Linked DNA regions of Homo sapiens. The protein of the gene in region 1 purifies or fractionates together with the protein of each later gene. This does not show direct contact. Each region holds a gene or a part of one and is shown in the gene's direction. Other genes may lie near its edges.

Region 1 (5,564 bases):
ATTGTTACAAAAGAGAAGGAAGAGAAAGCCAGGATGGGTGCCAGGAGTTTCACAGAGGGGCTCCTGTTTCATGGCCTGTGTTTTCTCAGAGAAATAAGAGGAAATGTGTGCTTACCTGTGTGTCCTAATTTTTCATTGATAATCATAGAATATTGGAGTAATCAAAATTTACAAGAGCAGTTGCTGTGGGTTGAATTTTGCCCTGAAAGAGATATGCTCAGGTTCTGAGCTCCAGTACCTGTGAATGTGACTTTATTTTGAATAGGGTCTTTGCAAAAAAAAAAAAAAAAAAATCAAGTTAAGATGAGGTCCTACAGGATTGGGATTAGTCATATACCCTTAATCCAGTGAGTGGTGTCCTTATAAGAAGAGGTGTATTGGACACACAGACAGATGGAGAAGAGCACCATGATATGAAGGAGGAAGAGATTGGAGTGATGCATCTACAACCGAAGGAAGCCAACCGATGACTACTGGCAACCTACGGAATCTTGGAATAAACTCTCCCTCAGAGCTTGCCAGAAAGAACCAACCTCACGGAAACCTTGATTTCAGACTCATAGCCTGCAGAACTGCAGAAGAATAAATTTCTGTTGTTTAAAGCCACGCAGTCGTAGTAATGTGTTGTGGCCTCCCTAGGAAATTAACACAGTTGTGTTACATTTTGAGACATAGATAGCCCTCAACCGATCCTGTTAACCAGATGATAATCTTCAGCAATGCTCTTACCTGTTCTCACAGTAGGAGAGGAAAGACAAACAGGTTTCATCCACAGTGCCCATGGATTGCATCAGAATCATCCAAACTGTTCTCCTTGCTTCCTGCTCTGACCTCTTCCAGCCTGTTCACAACCAAGCACCTGGAGTGATCCCTGGAGGCTCCAAATCCTTCAGGGACTTTACGTGTCATGGACAATAAAAGCCAAAGGACTTCCAGTGCCCCACTATCCCACATGCAGCCTGAACCTCTATTATCTCTCTTACCATACTTCCCACTCTTCTAGCTATTCACTGCCTCTGCTCTAATCACTGCTTTTCTTTGAATACATCACGCACAGTCTTGCTGTATGGTCTTTGCACAAACTGTGCCCTCCGTCTGAACGGCTCCTCCAAAAATAGCTGCCTGGCTAACTCCAACATCTTTCTCAACTATTGCTTTCCAATGAGGGCTACTCTGACCATGCTATTGTAAAGTGCAATCCAATACCCCATGCCCAGCACTGTGGATCTCCCTTGTCCTGCTATATTTTTCCATGGCATTTATTGCCTTCTAACATACCATATATTTTATTATGTGATGTTTAGTGTCACCCTTTCGTCATCCTGTGAAAAATCTACCCTCACAGGGTGAAGATTCTTGACTCTTTCATTCATTAACAAATTTTAGGAACACAGAACAGTGTCTGGTTCACAGTTAGTGCCCTACAAGTTTTGCTGAATGAATGAATAAGGGTAATGTGTATATCAGAGTAATGTAAGCATAACCAGGTAAGCGATGAGTACATGGTAGCAATGATCATAAAAGGATTCTATTATAAATTATCACTGGACTAAAAATGGCAGTCCTAGTACACAAGACACGTACTTGCCATCACTAAAACATTGCCTACCCACATGATGCCCTCTCTCCACAAAATTGATCCCTGGTGAGGAGTAACTATTGACCGCCCACTGAGTGGTGACTCCTTATGCTAAGCACCACGAATACAAGGGCAGGAGCAGGATTTTTGGTTGCACAGCCGGTGTTTCAGGCACCCATCCTCCCAGGGAACCCAAGAGAAGAGCCCTGTATCTCCTTAGTAAATGCAGAACCCAAGCTCCCAAGCCATTTTCCCCAGGCCATCCTAATGGCTCCCTCAGCCTTGATGGGAGAAGCCACGATGTTCCCACCCATCGCCTTTTAGTAGCCACAAGAACCTGCCCGCCCACCCACTGCACGCCCATTGGTTGGACAGTGGTAGAGGCGGGCCCTGACGAGCGCATGCTCAGAGGGAGAAGTCAGCGGAGAAGCTGGGAGCTCCTTTGGAGGCTGCGGTGTCCCTGACTCTCCTGAGGGGGGCTCACTAACGGGTGGGTCCCATGCCACAGTGTCTGAGGAGAAGCAGGAAGTGAGTCCCTGAGGAGACGCCGTGACCTGAGGGCTTCCCTTACTGAGGAGGCCTCGTGCTTCATCTGCCACAAGCGGTGCCCAGGCCGGTGGTGACAACTGGGACGATGCTCAGGCTTCTGAGACTTGCTTTGGCCTTCTACGGGAGGACGGCCGACCCTGCAGAGCGACAGGGCCCACAGCAGCAGGGCCTCCCACAAGGTATTCCTCTGTGTGTCCCCTTGTCCCCCACCCCAGAAGCCTCCCAATAGGGGTTCTCCTCACCCCCGGAATGAGGCTGTTGTAACTCGGGTGGGTACTGCACGTGACGGTGGCTCCATCTTGTGCGTGCATGGGGAGGCAACCCGAGGCAACCCGAGTCCTCAACAATTCCCTGAGAACCAACCCCCAAACTCTCCTGTCCATCTAAAGCGGGAAGGTGTTGACAGAGAAGACCTTGGGGTCTGTACCGCCTGTGCTTTTCCCCCACGTGGTCGCACAGCACATGCCTATTTATATTTCCAGTAGGCGAGAAACTCCCTAATTTGCGAGTTAATTTAGGCTTGTATCCCAAACGGGAATGTAATTTGAAGCCAAGTTGATGCCTCATACTTATCTGATCCCAAAGGAAGGCAGAGAACCCCTGCCGGCGACTGCTGAGGTTTGATCCCTAAGTATTGCTGATCAGCTAGGCTTGTGCAGAATAAAAAAAAAAGAAGAAGAAGAAGAAGGAGAAATAAAGAAAACCATTCAGATGCCGTTTTGGGCTAGCCTTCAATCTCCAGATATCTTTTAGTACTTTGTCTGCTGAGATGGTTAAGTATCTATAGAAGGTGCTACTCATCATGTTGGTGATAATGATGAAGGAATATAATAGGAGCAGAAGCTTAAAGACTCATATGTAGAAATGCTAACAGGTAACATTTACACACTCTTGTGCAAGGCACTCAGAGCTCTCGACAGTTGATGTGCATGTGTCAGTTAATATTCGTAAGCTGGGCGCGGTGGCTCACACCTGTAATCCCAGCTCTTTGGGAGTTCCAGGTAGGTGGATCACTTGAGGCCAGGAGCTGGAGACCAGCCTGGGCAACATGGCAAAACCCCGTCTCTATTAACAATTCAAAAATTAGCTGGGTGTGACGGTACACACCTGTAGTCCCAGCTACTGGGGAGGCTGAGACATGAGAACCACCTGAACCCAGGAGGCAGAGGTTGCCGCTAGCCCAGATTGCGCCACTGCACTCCAGCCCCGGCGACAGAGCCAGACTCTGCTCAAAAAATTAAAAAATAATTAAAAATTAAAATTTTTAAATTTTAATAAATTTTTAAAAATATTTTAAAAACCTACAACAACCCTATTAGGCGAAATTGTGATTGTTGTGGATTGACAGATGAAAACAAGGTCAGAGACGTTATAAAACTTCTCTGCCCAGGGTTATGCAGATGGTGAGTGTAAGACTTACTTGTAGTAGGTGTTTGCATTTGAGGCTAATAATGTGACCTTGTTTCTTTATCTTGTAGGTGACACCCAGTTGACAACTGTGCAGGGAGTTGTCACAAGTTTCTGTGGTGATTATGGCATGATTGATGAGTCGATCTACTTCAGTAGTGATGTTGTGACTGGCAACGTGCCTCTAAAAGTTGGACAAAAAGTTAATGTGGTTGTGGAAGAAGATAAACCACATTATGGATTGAGAGCAATCAAGGTGAGATGTGCATGAGTTTGGGAATTGTGTCTTATCCCAGTGGGCTTTCTTTCTCCATCTTTCTTTTCTTGAGTTAATCCGACATCTCTGCTGTGATCCGTAGAGTGGATGTAGACTGCAATTTGAAGCCCCCCTCCTCTGAAGCTGTAGCTTCTTCTGTTGTAATATTTGTAGTAATTTGTGCTGTAAAACATAAAAGCTTACTTATCTATTATTCTAGTCTTTAAACAATATGAGTAACAATAATAATTATTGAACTCTTTATAATCTTACAACTTCCCTTATCAGGTAAAAAAACATTTTCTGTAGTGTGCATTCAAAACAGTGGAATTTCTATGTCAAGCCATGTGCATTGTAAATATTTTAAAAAGAGCTTCATGGAATTATAATTCACCAACCACAAAACTCTCTTAAGGGTACAATTCAATAACATTTGCAGATTTACGGAGTCCTGGCAACATCACCTGAGCCCAGATATTTGCCCATTCAGTGGCTATTATGAAATTATTCTTTAGCTCTATTGTACTAATTGATTCTCTCAGCAATAGGAGGTGAGACTGCCCATCTGCCCATATAGGCAAGGACAACAATACTATCGATCTGAAATCTTTGCACATATGAGAAAGGAAAAGCAGTCTCATCATTCATTTGGAATTATTAAGGGTCTTCATGAGATTACAGTAAGTTTTATTTCTTAGACCTACTGATACAATAGGGATATTTATGGCTATCTCTATGGTAGGAAAATTAGATTTGTAATAGGAAAGTTTGTGTATGAAGCCCTTGTAGTATTTCGTCTGATACCATCTTTTTCCTTTGCTTTATGTCTTTCATTCTTTTACAGCATTATTGAGATATAAGTCACGTGACTATACAATTGGCCCACTTAGAGGGAACAATCTAGTGGTTTTTAATTTGTTCACAGAGTTATGCAATCATCACCACAATCAACTTTAGAACATTTTCATTACTCAAAAGGAAGCTCTTCGTGCTCCCCCAACTGTCCCCTCCCCCAACAACATCCAGCTCCAGGAAATCACTTATCCACTTTCTGTTTGTATATATTCTGGACAGTTAAAAAAGGTTCCTTCTATACAACTGTAATTATATGTTCTTTCACCAACATCTTCTCATTCCTCTGTCCACCCTAACAACACAAGCGTCTGGTAACCACCATTCTACTCTACACTGCTATGAGATCAACTTTTTTATCTTCTGCATGTGAATGTGACCGTGCAGTATTTGTCTTTGTGTGACTGGCTTATCTCACTTACATATCATTCTCCAGGTTCATCCAGGTTATTTCAAACGGCAATATTCTGTTCTGTTTTATGGCTGAATAGCATTCCCTTGTGTATTTATACCACATTTCCTTTATACACTCATCCGTAGATGGACACTTAGATTGCTTTCATTTCATAGCTATTGTGAATAGGGCTGCAACAAACATGGAAGTGCTGACATCTCTTTGACACACTGATGACACTCTCTTTGGATACATGCTCAGTAGTGGGATTCATGGATAGTGTGATAGTTCCATTGTTAAAATATTGGGGAATGTCCATACTGTTTTCCATGGTGGCTGTAACAATTTACATCCCACCAACCGTGCATAAAGCTTCCAATTTCTCCACATCCTTGCCAACACTTGTTATATCTTGTCTTTTTAATGTTAGCCATTCTAACATGCGTGACTCGGTATCTCTGTGGTTCCGATATGCATTACCCTGATGATTAGAGAAGGTGAGTGTTTTTTCACATGCCTGTTAGCCA
Region 2 (4,014 bases), on another chromosome or scaffold:
ACTCCAAATGAAAGAAATTCGTTTTGGAAAATGTAATGTACTATGAGGGTAGCTTGTATAAGAAGGGCAACTGGGACTCCTGTCAACTGACATCAAGAGAAGTATTTTGCACATTAAAATACTGGTAAATGGATATATATTTATGTTTTAAGTTAAAAAGATTATTTAGGCTGGGCACGGTAGCTCACGCCAGTAATCCCAGGACTTTGGGAGGCCGAGGTGGGCGGATCACCTGAGGTCGTGAGTTCGAGACCAGCCTGACCAACATGGAGAAACCCCGTCTCTACCAAAAATACAAAAAAAAAAAAAAAAAAAAAAAAAAAAAATTAGCCAGGCGTGGTGGCGCTGGCCTGTAATCCCGGTTACTCGGGAGGCTGAGGCAGGAGAATCGCTTGAACCCGGGAGGCGGAGGCTGTGGTGAGCCGAGATCGTGCCATTGCACTCCAGCCTGGGCAACAAGAGCGACACTCTGTCTCAAAAAAAAAAAAAAAAAAATTAATGCACATGTATGTGTAATGTATATATATGAGATGAGGCCTCTCTCTGTTGCCCAGGCTGGAGCGCAGTGCCACAATCAGGTTCACTGCAGCCCTGAACTCCTGGGTTCGAGTAATCCTCCCGCCTCAGCCTCCCAAGCAGCGCGTGTGACACCACCACGCCAGGCTCCATATATATATATATATATATATATTTTTTTTTTTTTTTTTTTTTTGGTAGAGACAGGGTCTCTCTATGTTGCTCAGGCTGGTCTCGAACTCCTGGGCTCAAGCGAGCCTCCCACCTCGGCTTCCCAAAATGCTGGGATTATAGGCCTGAGCCACCGCGCCCGGCCCATATCGTTTTTTTAAAAATAGAAAAGCCACCAATCTCCAGGGCCTCGGGTAAGAAGTCGCTCCAAAATCGCCAGCACCACAGCAACTCAATAGGCTTCTATTTCCATCCACCAAGGCCAGGACACTCGTATGCTCCCGGACGCCCTCTCCGGCGTCCCTTCGCTGAGCCCGGCCTGGCTAGCCCGCCACCCCGCCCGCTGTTACCCGACTGCCCGCACCGACCACCTGCGGCCGCCAAGGTGCGGCAGGGGGCGCTGTGCGGCCGCAGAGGCCGCGCCGGGCCGCGCTCTGATTGGCTGGAGGCCGCGGCCCTCGCCCAGGCCGCCCGCCCAGTCTGCCCGCCCCGTCCGCTAAGTGCCTGGGCTCTCCCGCTCGCGTCCCAGTCTGCGGGCCTCCGGGGCAGCGGCGAGGCCGGAGCGTCGCGGCGGAGAGGACGAGACCGGGACAAGACCAGGGCAGGAGGGAGCCGGCCAGCCGCGAGAACCCCGCACGCCCGGCAAGATGCTGTCCTGGCGGCTGCAGACGGGCCCCGAGAAGGCCGAGCTCCAGGAGCTCAACGCCCGGCTCTATGACTACGTGTGTCGGGTGCGGGAGCTGGAGCGCGAAAACCTACTCCTGGAGGAGGAGCTGCGCGGCCGGCGCGGGCGAGAGGGCCTGTGGGCCGAGGGGCAGGCCCGCTGCGCCGAGGAGGCGCGCAGCTTGCGGCAGCAGCTGGACGAGCTGAGCTGGGCCACTGCGCTGGCGGAGGGCGAGCGGGACGCTCTGCGGCGCGAGCTGCGGGAGCTGCAGCGCCTGGATGCGGAGGAGCGCGCCGCCCGCGGCCGCCTGGACGCCGAGCTGGGTGCGCAGCAGCGCGAGCTGCAGGAGGCGCTGGGCGCGCGCGCCGCCCTCGAGGCGCTGCTGGGCCGGCTGCAGGCCGAGCGCCGAGGCCTCGACGCGGCCCACGAACGCGACGTGAGGGAGCTGCGCGCGCGCGCCGCCAGCCTTACCATGCATTTCCGCGCCCGCGCCACCGGCCCCGCCGCGCCGCCGCCACGCCTGCGGGAGGTGCACGACAGCTACGCACTGCTGGTGGCCGAGTCGTGGCGGGAGACGGTGCAGCTGTACGAGGACGAGGTGCGCGAGCTGGAGGAGGCGCTGCGGCGCGGCCAGGAGAGCAGACTCCAGGCGGAGGAAGAGACGCGGCTGTGCGCGCAGGAGGCAGAGGCGCTGCGGCGCGAGGCGCTCGGGTTGGAGCAGCTGCGCGCGCGGCTGGAGGACGCGCTGCTGCGGATGCGCGAGGAGTACGGGATACAGGCCGAGGAGCGGCAGGTCCGTGCGCGGGGATGGCGCGCTGACCCCATACCCGCTGCCGTCGCCCCAGCACCCTGCCCTTGACGGCGTGGGGCAGCGGCCCCTTCACCAGGGGCGCGGCGTCGCGGACCGGTAGGGCCCGCCCAGAGGGTGCCCGAATGGCATGGGGACCCGGACTCGGTCCGCTGGTCCATCGACTCAGCGGGCGAGCGCGGGGCGGCAGGTCCTAGCGGATAGCCCCGTCCTCGTCATGGGGTTAGGTGGCAGCTGCTTTAACTCTTGACAAGCGTGACTGGGCGCATCCTGATAGGCCACCCTGTTAGCTCTAGGTTTTCCTTCCATTTTCCGTGCTCCGTAGACTCAGTAGACCCAGATCTAAGAGTCAACCGAGAAACCTCTCTCACTTGCAGAAGTGACGGCTTATGGTAGCCCCGCTGTCTATAGCGCTCCTCAGGGGAAAACTCAAATTAATTTCCAAAACGGTTTTTATTTTGCCAATATGATTTCCCAGTTGGAAGCCGCAGTTGTGGCTCTCTGGGCGGCTGCCTTGTTTGATCTTGGGAGGGGCAGCAACCCTCATGCAGAACAGAGCTTGATCGAAGATGTTTTGCTCACAGCACACGCTGACGTCAGATCTCTGCGTAGTGTAAAAGTTGTGGGAAAGTGGGGCCCTTTGGCAGGATGTTATTACAAGTGCAGAGTGATATAAACAGTTACTATTTCAGGGAAGCAAACCCTCTGACACCGGCGGGGTGACACCTGTGGCTGATGTAAACTATGCCCAGTCCAGCCCTAGCGTTTGGCCCTCGCCCTGCCCTGCCTCAGCCAGAATTGGAAATATTCCCAAATCACACTATCAGTAGTTCTCAAAAGGACAGATGGAAATAACATCTGCACAATTTCACAAATATTTTAAGAGTACAGTTTGCAGCTGTGAGTTAAAGATTTGAGACTGACTTTTAAAAATTAGAAGTGAGAGGAACATGGGGGTTGTCATATGGAATGACTGCGGTGATGTGACAGGTATCCACAGGTGATGAGTAAATACCTGTTGATTCTCCCTGGGTCCCCAGCACTGCCCTAGACTTTCAGTATGCAAAGAGCTACAGGCTAGATGGGAAATCATAGAATGCAATATGGTACTACATTGGGATTTAATCTTTTGAGTTGTGGGTTTTGTTTGGCTTCCGCCTCATAACTTTTCAAAGTGTTCTCTTGGGGCTTTGCCATAGCTAGAGCAGGGACAGGGACTGACCCAGTGTGTACCGATTTCCACTTGTGAGCACTTGTGTCCCTTTGCAATGACAGTGGCCAGGGGTCTGAGTTCCACAGGTCCTATACTCGTTGTTGAGTGAAAGTTAAAAAGTGCCTTAATGTGGCATTCATGGAGATTTGACCAGTGGTTATTTTGACTCTCCAAAAAGGAGTATCTGTCAAACCTACTGCCCAGGGAACCCCTTTGTAGGGAACCCTCGCTACCAACTCAGGGGTCTGTGCTGTGCAGGCAGGTTTAGAAAATGCTGCTTTGAGCCACGCTGTGTGGACCAAATCGTCACCATGCGTTCACAGCCACAGCTCACTTGGCACATTTCAGACCTTCAAATTCTGGTTCCAGTGTTCTTTCTTAGCGGCAAAGCCCTTTTCCCCACTAATGAAACCTTCAGTGGAACTCGTAATGTGAGCCATATGAAAGCAGAGTTCCCCTGACTGGAGGAGACATGGGGACTTGAAGTGCAGTTAGAATCCTGTGCAGCCCTCCTTTGACACAGGGACTCCAGGGCCCACCGGGGAAGTGCTTTTCCTGAGGTCATACCTGCCCTCAGAGTGAGGCTGGGACCCCACTCTCCGTTTGCCATCCAGTGATACTTCTCTCTTGTTGGAATTTGCT
Region 3 (3,500 bases), on another chromosome or scaffold:
CTCGGCCTCTCAAAGTGCTGGGATTACAGGTGTGAGCCACTGCGCCTGGCCTTGTGTGTACATTTTTGGAACTCCTTTGGTCCTTAAAGGAAAACTGAAGTGGGTGGTGTTTCTAACCCATTTTCAGAAAGAGCATTAGTTTAGTGCTGTTCATGTCAAGCAAAACAGTGTAACCAAACTGTCTGCCTGGAGTGGGACTTCTGTAAAGATCATTATGAAATTAATGACTTGTGGCCGGGTGCGGTGGCTCACGCCTGTAATCACAGCACTTTGGGAGGCCGAGGTGGGCAGATTACCTGAGGTAGGGAGTTTGAGACTGTCCTGACCAACATGGAGAAACCCTGTCTCTACTAAAAATACAAAATTAGCCAGGTGTGGTGGCACACACCTGTAATCCCAGCTACGGGAGACTGAGGCAGGAGAATCACTTGAACCCGGGAGGCGGAGGTTGCGGAGAGCCGAGATCACACCATTGCACTCCAGCCTGGGTAACAAGAGCGAAACTCTGTCTCAAAAAAAAAAGAAGTTAATGACTTGTTTATTAGCAAACATGATTTTACCCATGAAAAGACTCCATTTAGACTGAGTGTGGTAGCTCATGCATGTAATCACAGCACTTTGGGAGGCCAAGGCAGGAGGATCACCTGAGATCAGGAGTTCGAGACCAGCCTGGCCAACATGGTGAAACTCCATCTCTACTAAAAATACAAAAAAATTAGCTGGGCCTGGTGATGCATGCCTGTAATCCCAGCTACTTGGGAGGCTGAGGCAGGAGAATTGCTTGAACCCAGGAGGTGGAGGTTGTAGTGAGCCAAGATCATACCACTGCACTCCAGCTTGGGCAACAAGAGCGAAAACTCCGTCTCAAAAAAAAAAAAAAAAAAAAAAGAGGCCAGGTGCAGTGGCTCATGCCTGTAATCCCAGCACTTTGGGAGGCCGAAGTAGGCGGATCACCTGAGGTCAGGAGTTTGAGACCAGCCTGCCCAACATGGTGAAACCCCGTCTCTACTAAAAATACAAAAATTAGCTGGGAGTGGTGACAGGTGCCTGTAATCCCAGTTAGTCAGGAGGCTGAGGCAGGAGAATCGCTTGAACCTGGGAGGCAGAGGTTGCAGTGAGCCAAGATTGTGTCACTATACTCCAGCCTGGGCGACAGAACAAGACTCCGTCTAAAAGAAAAAAAAAGAAAGACTGCATTTAAATAAGCATTTTGAAACCACTTGTTTTCTTTCTTTTATTCACTCTTTGAACAATCATTTCACTTAATGGATGCATACCCTGGGCCAGACTCTCTGTGCCATGTGGGGCCTGGGCCCTGCTCTTGCTCTTGTGACAGTGTTTTTTAGTGGGTATTGCATATGCCCCAAGTGGAAGGACCATAAAAAAGATTAAGGAAGCAGCTGCAGAAATTTATAATCTCAGCTTTTCTGCTACAGTAAATTTCTGTCTCTCTCTAGGTATCTTATTGACAGCCGGTGGTTCAAGCAGTGGAAGAAGTATGTGGGCTTTGACAGCTGGGACATGTACAATGTGGGTGAACATAACCTATTTCCTGGCCCAATAGACAACTCTGGGCTATTTTCAGGTATAGTAAATGTTGCTTTTCTAGCTAAACATTCACCTGGGCAGTGGCCTGATGTTATGTGCATCTGTAACATGGACGTTGTGAACTTTCCTAGTGTGAGGAGATAGAAACAAGTATCCTCATTTTGCATCTATAGCAGAAGTCTTTGCAAACCCTTAATGAGAAGTTAAGCTACTTTTTTCCCTTAAATTAACTGCATCTGATAAGAGTATGCTTCTAACATTTTAACTTTCTCTCTTTGCAAATTAGTTCTGCTAGCTATTTCACATTTTAAGTTAGTATATGGAATGGAAAGAAATAGGATGTCATTTTGAAATTGTATCTAAAATTTAAGAACCAGAATTTTTTGTTACCTTTGCAGTGGAACAAATTGTAAACCTGTGAACTTTCATCAAGAATTCCTGTGATGGCTGTTTTTATCATATAACTAGTGTGAGGAGAGGTTGAAGGTCAGTAGACAGAGTTATGACTGTAGTCAGCTCCCAATGGGAACTGTGGGAAAAGCGACATGTAACACACTAGAGCTTGCTTGCACTTGTACATGCACTGAGATGACAGAGTCAGCTTTTCCCAGGCTTTCTTTTGCCTGACTTCAGACCTCTTTAAAGTCATGATAGAGGTGATCTGTCATGGGTGTCAAAAATCAGGGCAGTGCCAGGAGTGGTGTCTCACGCCTGTAATCTCAGCACTTTGGGAGGCCAAGGCAGGTGGATCACCTGAGGTCAGGAGTTCGAGACCAGCCTGGCCAACATGGTGAAACCCCGTCTCTACCATGTTGGCTAGGCTGGCCTTGAGCTCCTGGGCTCAAGCTATCTTCCTGCCTCAGCCTCCTTAGTCACTGAGACTACAGTGTTCTACCACTCTCAGCTGTTTTTTAAGTTTTTTGGTAGAGACGGGGTCTTGCTATGTTGCCCAGGCTGGTTGAACTCCTGGCCTCAAGCCATCCTCCCACCTTGGCTTCCCAGAGTGTTGGTGTGAGCCACTGTGCCTGGCCTAACTTGGATATTTTTAAAACTGAGCAATGCTTCAGCTCAGACCTTGTTTTAGGAGAGGTCTACATGGTATAAACAATATCATTTACTTTGTTTCCTGAAATAGGTCAAATGGTGGCACTATGCCACGAAGTTGCCCTAAGGAATCATTTCATTATGTTCACATTTTGTTCTTTTTCTCATTTTTATGAAATGGAGAATTCTTAAGGTTTTAAATTCAGGCATACTTTGGCTTATTGTGCTTTGCTTTATTATATGTTGCAGATACTGCATTTTTAGCAAATTTTGTAGGTATTTGGCAACGCTGCCTTGACAATCTGTCAGTTCCATTTTTACAACAGCATGTGCTCACTTCATGTCTCTGTTACCACATTTTGGTAATTCTCAAAATACTTCAAAGTTTTTCATTATTATTTGTTATGGTGATCAGTGATCAGGGAGCTTTCTTTTTTTTTTTGAGACGGAGTTTTGCTCTTGTTGCCCAGGCAGGAGTGCAGTGGCATGATCGTGGCTCATGGCAACCTCCACCTCTTGGGTTCAAGTGATTCTCCTGCCTCAGCCTCCCGAGTAGCTAGGATTACAGGCATGTGCCACCACGCCCGGCTAATTTTGTATTTTTAGTAGAGATGGGGTTTCTCCATGTTGGTCAGGCTGGTCTTGAACTCCCGACCTCAGCCTCCCAAAGTGCTGGGATTACAGGCATGAGCCACCATGCCCAGCCAACAGGGATCTTTCATGTTGCTATTGTAATTGTTTTGGGGCATCATGAAGGGAGCCCATGTAAGACAGTGAACTTAATTGGTAATTATTGTGTGTATTCTCGCTGCTTCACCAACCAGCCATTCCATCTCTCTCTCTCTCCTCAGGCTTTGCTATTGCCTGAGACACAATGACACTGAAATTCGGCCACTTAGTAACCCTAA
Region 4 (4,244 bases), on another chromosome or scaffold:
GTTCTCTGGCAGGCCGGGGCGGGGGTCATAAGGTGCTCAGCGGGGGAGCTTCTGAGCCAGGAGAAGGGATTTCACAAGGTAATGTCATCAGTTAAGGCAGGAACCAGCCATTTGCACTTCTTTTGTGATTCTTCAGTTACTTCAGGCCATGTGGATGTATATGTGCAGGCTTGGGCTCAGAGGCCTGACAGGTACAGCGTACACTGCTCTGGTGACGGGTGCACCAAAGTCTCAGAAATCACCACTAAAAACTTATCCATGTAACCAAAAACCACCTGTACCCCCAAAACTACTGAAATACAAGTTTTAAAAAGATGAAAAAAATTTTTTTTACATAAAATATCTTTCTCCCCAAAAACACATAAAATAAAATAAAAATATGTTTTAAAAAAGAATTGAGGTGGCTCTTAACTAGATAATTAGAATCGCTGGTGGTAATCACTGGCGAAATACGCGTACGTTTCTGTAGGTTTAGGGACCGGGCAAGTCTGGGAAATGCCACCTGGTGGTTCTCAGCCCAGACTACACCTCAGACTCACCTGAAGAGGTGGGGTTTATTAATATCTCAATCAGCATCTCTGGGGGTGGAACTAGGTATTTGTAACGTCTCCCCGTGGGTTTCTAATGCACAGCTAAGTGCCCAGGATAAGTGCCCTAGGGCAATCTAAGTAAAACGTGGCACAGCAAACAATTTTGTAAATGAATATTAACTGGAGACATGTTCTCGAAATCATGTTAAGAGAAAAAACCATGTACAAAAAAGCTCATAGTGCAGTATGATTCCATTTCTGCAATGAGTGTAAGACTAGAAATTAACCGTGGTTATGTGAAATGTGTGGTATATTTGCATTTACTAAATTAAAAAAAATGTTTCTGAGACAGAGCGCCCGGGCTGCAATGCAGTGGTGATCACAGCTCACTGCAGCCTGGGACTCCCGGGCTCAAGCGACCCTCCCGCCTAGGACTCTCAAAGTGCTGGGATTACAGGCACGCGCCACCACGCCCGGCCTGCATTTACAATACTTTTTACGACGAATACTTACGGATGTTATATTAAGAAAATAGTTAACATCTGAGGTGCATTCTTCCAAATAATAACGTAGACAGCACTTACTGGGACCGTCTGGCACCAGGAACCGTCCTGGGGACCGCCAAAGGGCGGCTTAACCTCGCAGCTGCGCAGACGCATGCAGTCCCCGGGCTCTCCTGCCGCGGGACCTCGGCAGACCTAACCCTGAACGCCACCAGCCCGACCTCGCCCCGCCCCTCCCCTCCCTTCCCGGGCCCCGCCCCCGCTTCCTGCCAATTCGCCCCGCCTACCCCGCGTCTCCGCATCCTCTTCCTGGCTTCGCTCCATCAGCCTCGCTTTCGCTGGGCGCTGTCCCTCTCCGCGGCGGTCTGGTTTCCCCGACGTGTTTTGTTTGCGACGCTGTCGTGTAACAGCGCGCTTTACGGCCGCGGGGACGGAGCGAGCCGGCGCCAGGGCCCCTCGGGCCGGGAAGAGGGGAAGGGGAGCGAGGTTGATGCCCGGCGGAGGGGCGAGCGCGGCGTCTGGCCGGCTTCTCACCGCCGCGGAGCAAAGAGGGTCCCGGGAAGCGGCAGGGTCGGCGTCCAGGAGCGGCTTCGGGGGCTCCGGCGGCGGCAGAGGCGGAGCAAGCGGCCCCGGGTCCGGGAGCGGAGGCCCGGGGGGCCCCGCGGGCAGGATGAGCTTGACCCCGAAGGAGCTCTCGAGCCTGCTGAGCATCATATCGGAGGAGGCGGGCGGCGGCAGCACCTTCGAGGGCCTGTCCACCGCCTTCCACCACTACTTCAGCAAGGCCGACCACTTCCGCCTGGGCTCGGTGCTCGTCATGCTGCTCCAGCAGCCCGACCTGCTGCCTAGCGCGGCGCAGCGCCTCACGGCGCTCTACCTGCTCTGGGAGATGTACCGCACCGAGCCGCTGGCCGCCAACCCCTTCGCCGCCAGCTTCGCGCACCTGCTCAACCCCGCGCCGCCCGCCCGCGGCGGCCAGGAACCCGACCGCCCTCCGCTCTCAGGTACCTCCTGAAGCCAGCTGTGCCGTGTGGATAGCGTTAGATTCCGCAGCTTTCCACCTGCGCTGCTGGGAACTCACCTGAAAGGGAAATTAACTATCCCTGTGAAATGATCATCCTCTTTTTCCGCCTCTCTCTGCGTTCCCACGCCCCTCACTCCTCCCCGCCTTAACTCTAAAGAATGGAGAGGTGGTAGCTTAATTGCAAGTTCGTGACACCGAAAATGATTTCTCTATACACCCCATCACATCATACAGCTCAGTGTAGGTCTTGACATGTTTAGTGTCTCAAATACGGTTCGTTCTTCGAAAACCCGTCTGTGGTGTGTGAAGTTAAAACCAATGATAAGACTGGATCTGTCCCCGGTTTTTAGTCTCAAAGGAGTACGTGGAAGTCAGTATTAAGAAGCTGAAGAAGTTGGTGGGCGGAAATACACATGAAACACCTTAAAGACTTTGCAGCCGCCTTTCTTAGCCTGTTAGGGATGGGGGCAGAGGATAGAAAGTCTCAAATTGATGATCTCGCGTTTGGAAACACATGACTTACTGGACATTATGTAAAGTGCATACGTGGTATACATTATGTAAAATGTATTTACTATTGTGTGGCATTGGTGAGATCAAACTAGTAGGTTAGATGCGAGGCTGCATTTTTTTTTGTTTTTAAGCTCAAGCAGGTGATGCTTTATGTGGATTTGCTTTGCGAGAAGACTTGCAGTCAGAAAACAAGAAAAATGGCATGTTGACAACGGGACCTGAAGGATTTAGGAACCAGTGTAGTGGAGGAAGCACACAGAGATAGGAAACAGCTTGATCTTACATTCCTTAACCAGTATAGGTAGGGCCTGCTATACAGTGAGTCAAGGCTAGGCAGTAGATTTTGAAGTAACACCAGGAGTTTGTTTTTATGGTACAGGAGGGCCGCGTTTCTAGTTAGTGTTCCTGCCGGGCATCCCATCAGGATCTTCTGATAGGTGTCCTGTAGTGCCCTTATCTAAGAAGGGCAACCCTTTGTATTGGCCTGAGATGCCTTTAGGGTACAGGTACTTAACCTGCTTCTAAGAAGCTTGTGACTGCCCAGAAAGTGAATGTAACACAGGTTTGTGGTCAAAACTCACCACCTAGGCCTGGCTAGGTGGCTCACGCCTATAATCCCAGCACTTTTGGAGGCCGAAGTGGTGGAGGTTGGGGGGTGGGAATTGCTTGAGGCCAGGAGTTTGAAACCATCCTGGGCAACATAGTAAGATCCTGTCTTTACAAAGCAATAAAAAATTTGCTGGGCATGGGGTGGCTAACACCTGTAGCCCCAGCTGCTCAGGAGTTTGAGGCAGGAGGATCACTTGAGCCTAGGAGTTTGAGGCTGCAGTGAGTTAGGGTGACAGCTTCTAAACACACACACACACACAGACAACCACCACCCTAGGGTGCTTGTATTAGAGGATTGGGACACTGGGATTTAGATCAGAGGGCCCTTTGAATTCTGAAGAACAAGTGAGGCAAAGAAACCGTGACTTATATAATGTCATTCTCATGTACAGTGAATCTAAACCCACACCTAGTCCGTAGACCGCATTATACACACAGATTTGCCATAGGTGGGATGGCAGTCACCAGAGAAGGAATCCATGGATGGATTATATTTAACCATTTTGTGCCTCAGATTCCTCATCTGTAAAATGCAAATAGTAACAATTCCCAGCTGGTAGAGTTGTTACAAAGAATAAAAGTACCTGTGAGTGGGCTGGGCGCGGTGGCTCACGCCTGTAATCCCAGCACTTTGGGAGGCCGAGGCGGGCGGATCACAAGGTCAGGAGATCGAGACCATCTTGGCTAACACGGTGAAACCCCGTCTCTACTAAAAATACAAAAAATTAGCCGGGCGCGGTGGCGGGCGCCTGTAGTCCCAGCTACTTGGGAGGCTGAGGCAGGAGAATGGCGTGAACCTGGGAGGCGGAGCTTGCAGTGAGCCAAGATTGTGCCACTGCAATCCGGCCTGGGCTAAAGAGCGGGACTCCGTCTCAAAAAAAAAAAAAGTACCTGTGAGTGTTACCCACTATTATACCATTATTAAAGTAGGTAGGGATGGTGTGTAGATAACATAGAAGAGAAAATATCAGTGCCTACACTCCACTCCCAGAGCTGCTGATATTGTATGTTTAGGGTAAGACATTTAGTGGGTATGTCTTCAGAATGCTTTTCAGATGACTCTGA

What was found. The genes of interacting proteins can lie anywhere in the genome.
Region 2: the proteins of CT55 (region 1) and SYNM purify together in Homo sapiens (affinity purification with mass spectrometry; 3 studies listed by BioGRID and IntAct, with this or other methods). This does not show direct contact.
Region 3: the proteins of CT55 (region 1) and USP4 purify together in Homo sapiens (affinity purification with mass spectrometry; 3 studies listed by BioGRID and IntAct, with this or other methods). This does not show direct contact.
Region 4: the proteins of CT55 (region 1) and CNOT11 purify together in Homo sapiens (affinity purification with mass spectrometry; 3 studies listed by BioGRID and IntAct, with this or other methods). This does not show direct contact.

The regions. Positions count from the first base shown.
Region 1 is NC_000023.11:135,167,821-135,173,384, reverse strand, and holds the start of CT55 (cancer/testis antigen 55), read left to right. Parts: upstream 1-1,986; 5' UTR 1,987-2,213; coding exon 2,214-2,307; intron 2,308-3,606; coding exon 3,607-3,791; intron 3,792-5,564. UniProt on the Homo sapiens protein: Plays a role in spermatogenesis, possibly acting in the regulation of the autophagy pathway.
Region 2 is NC_000015.10:99,103,866-99,107,879, forward strand, and holds the start of SYNM (synemin), read left to right. Parts: upstream 1-1,214; 5' UTR 1,215-1,334; coding exon 1,335-2,144; intron 2,145-4,014. UniProt on the Homo sapiens protein: Type-VI intermediate filament (IF) which plays an important cytoskeletal role within the muscle cell cytoskeleton.
Region 3 is NC_000003.12:49,333,554-49,337,053, reverse strand, and holds part of USP4 (ubiquitin carboxyl-terminal hydrolase 4), read left to right. Parts: intron 1-1,457; coding exon 1,458-1,585; intron 1,586-3,500.
Region 4 is NC_000002.12:101,251,442-101,255,685, forward strand, and holds the start of CNOT11 (CCR4-NOT transcription complex subunit 11), read left to right. Parts: upstream 1-1,444; 5' UTR 1,445-1,523; coding exon 1,524-2,037; intron 2,038-4,244. UniProt on the Homo sapiens protein: Component of the CCR4-NOT complex which is one of the major cellular mRNA deadenylases and is linked to various cellular processes including bulk mRNA degradation, miRNA-mediated repression, translational repression during translational initiation and general transcription regulation.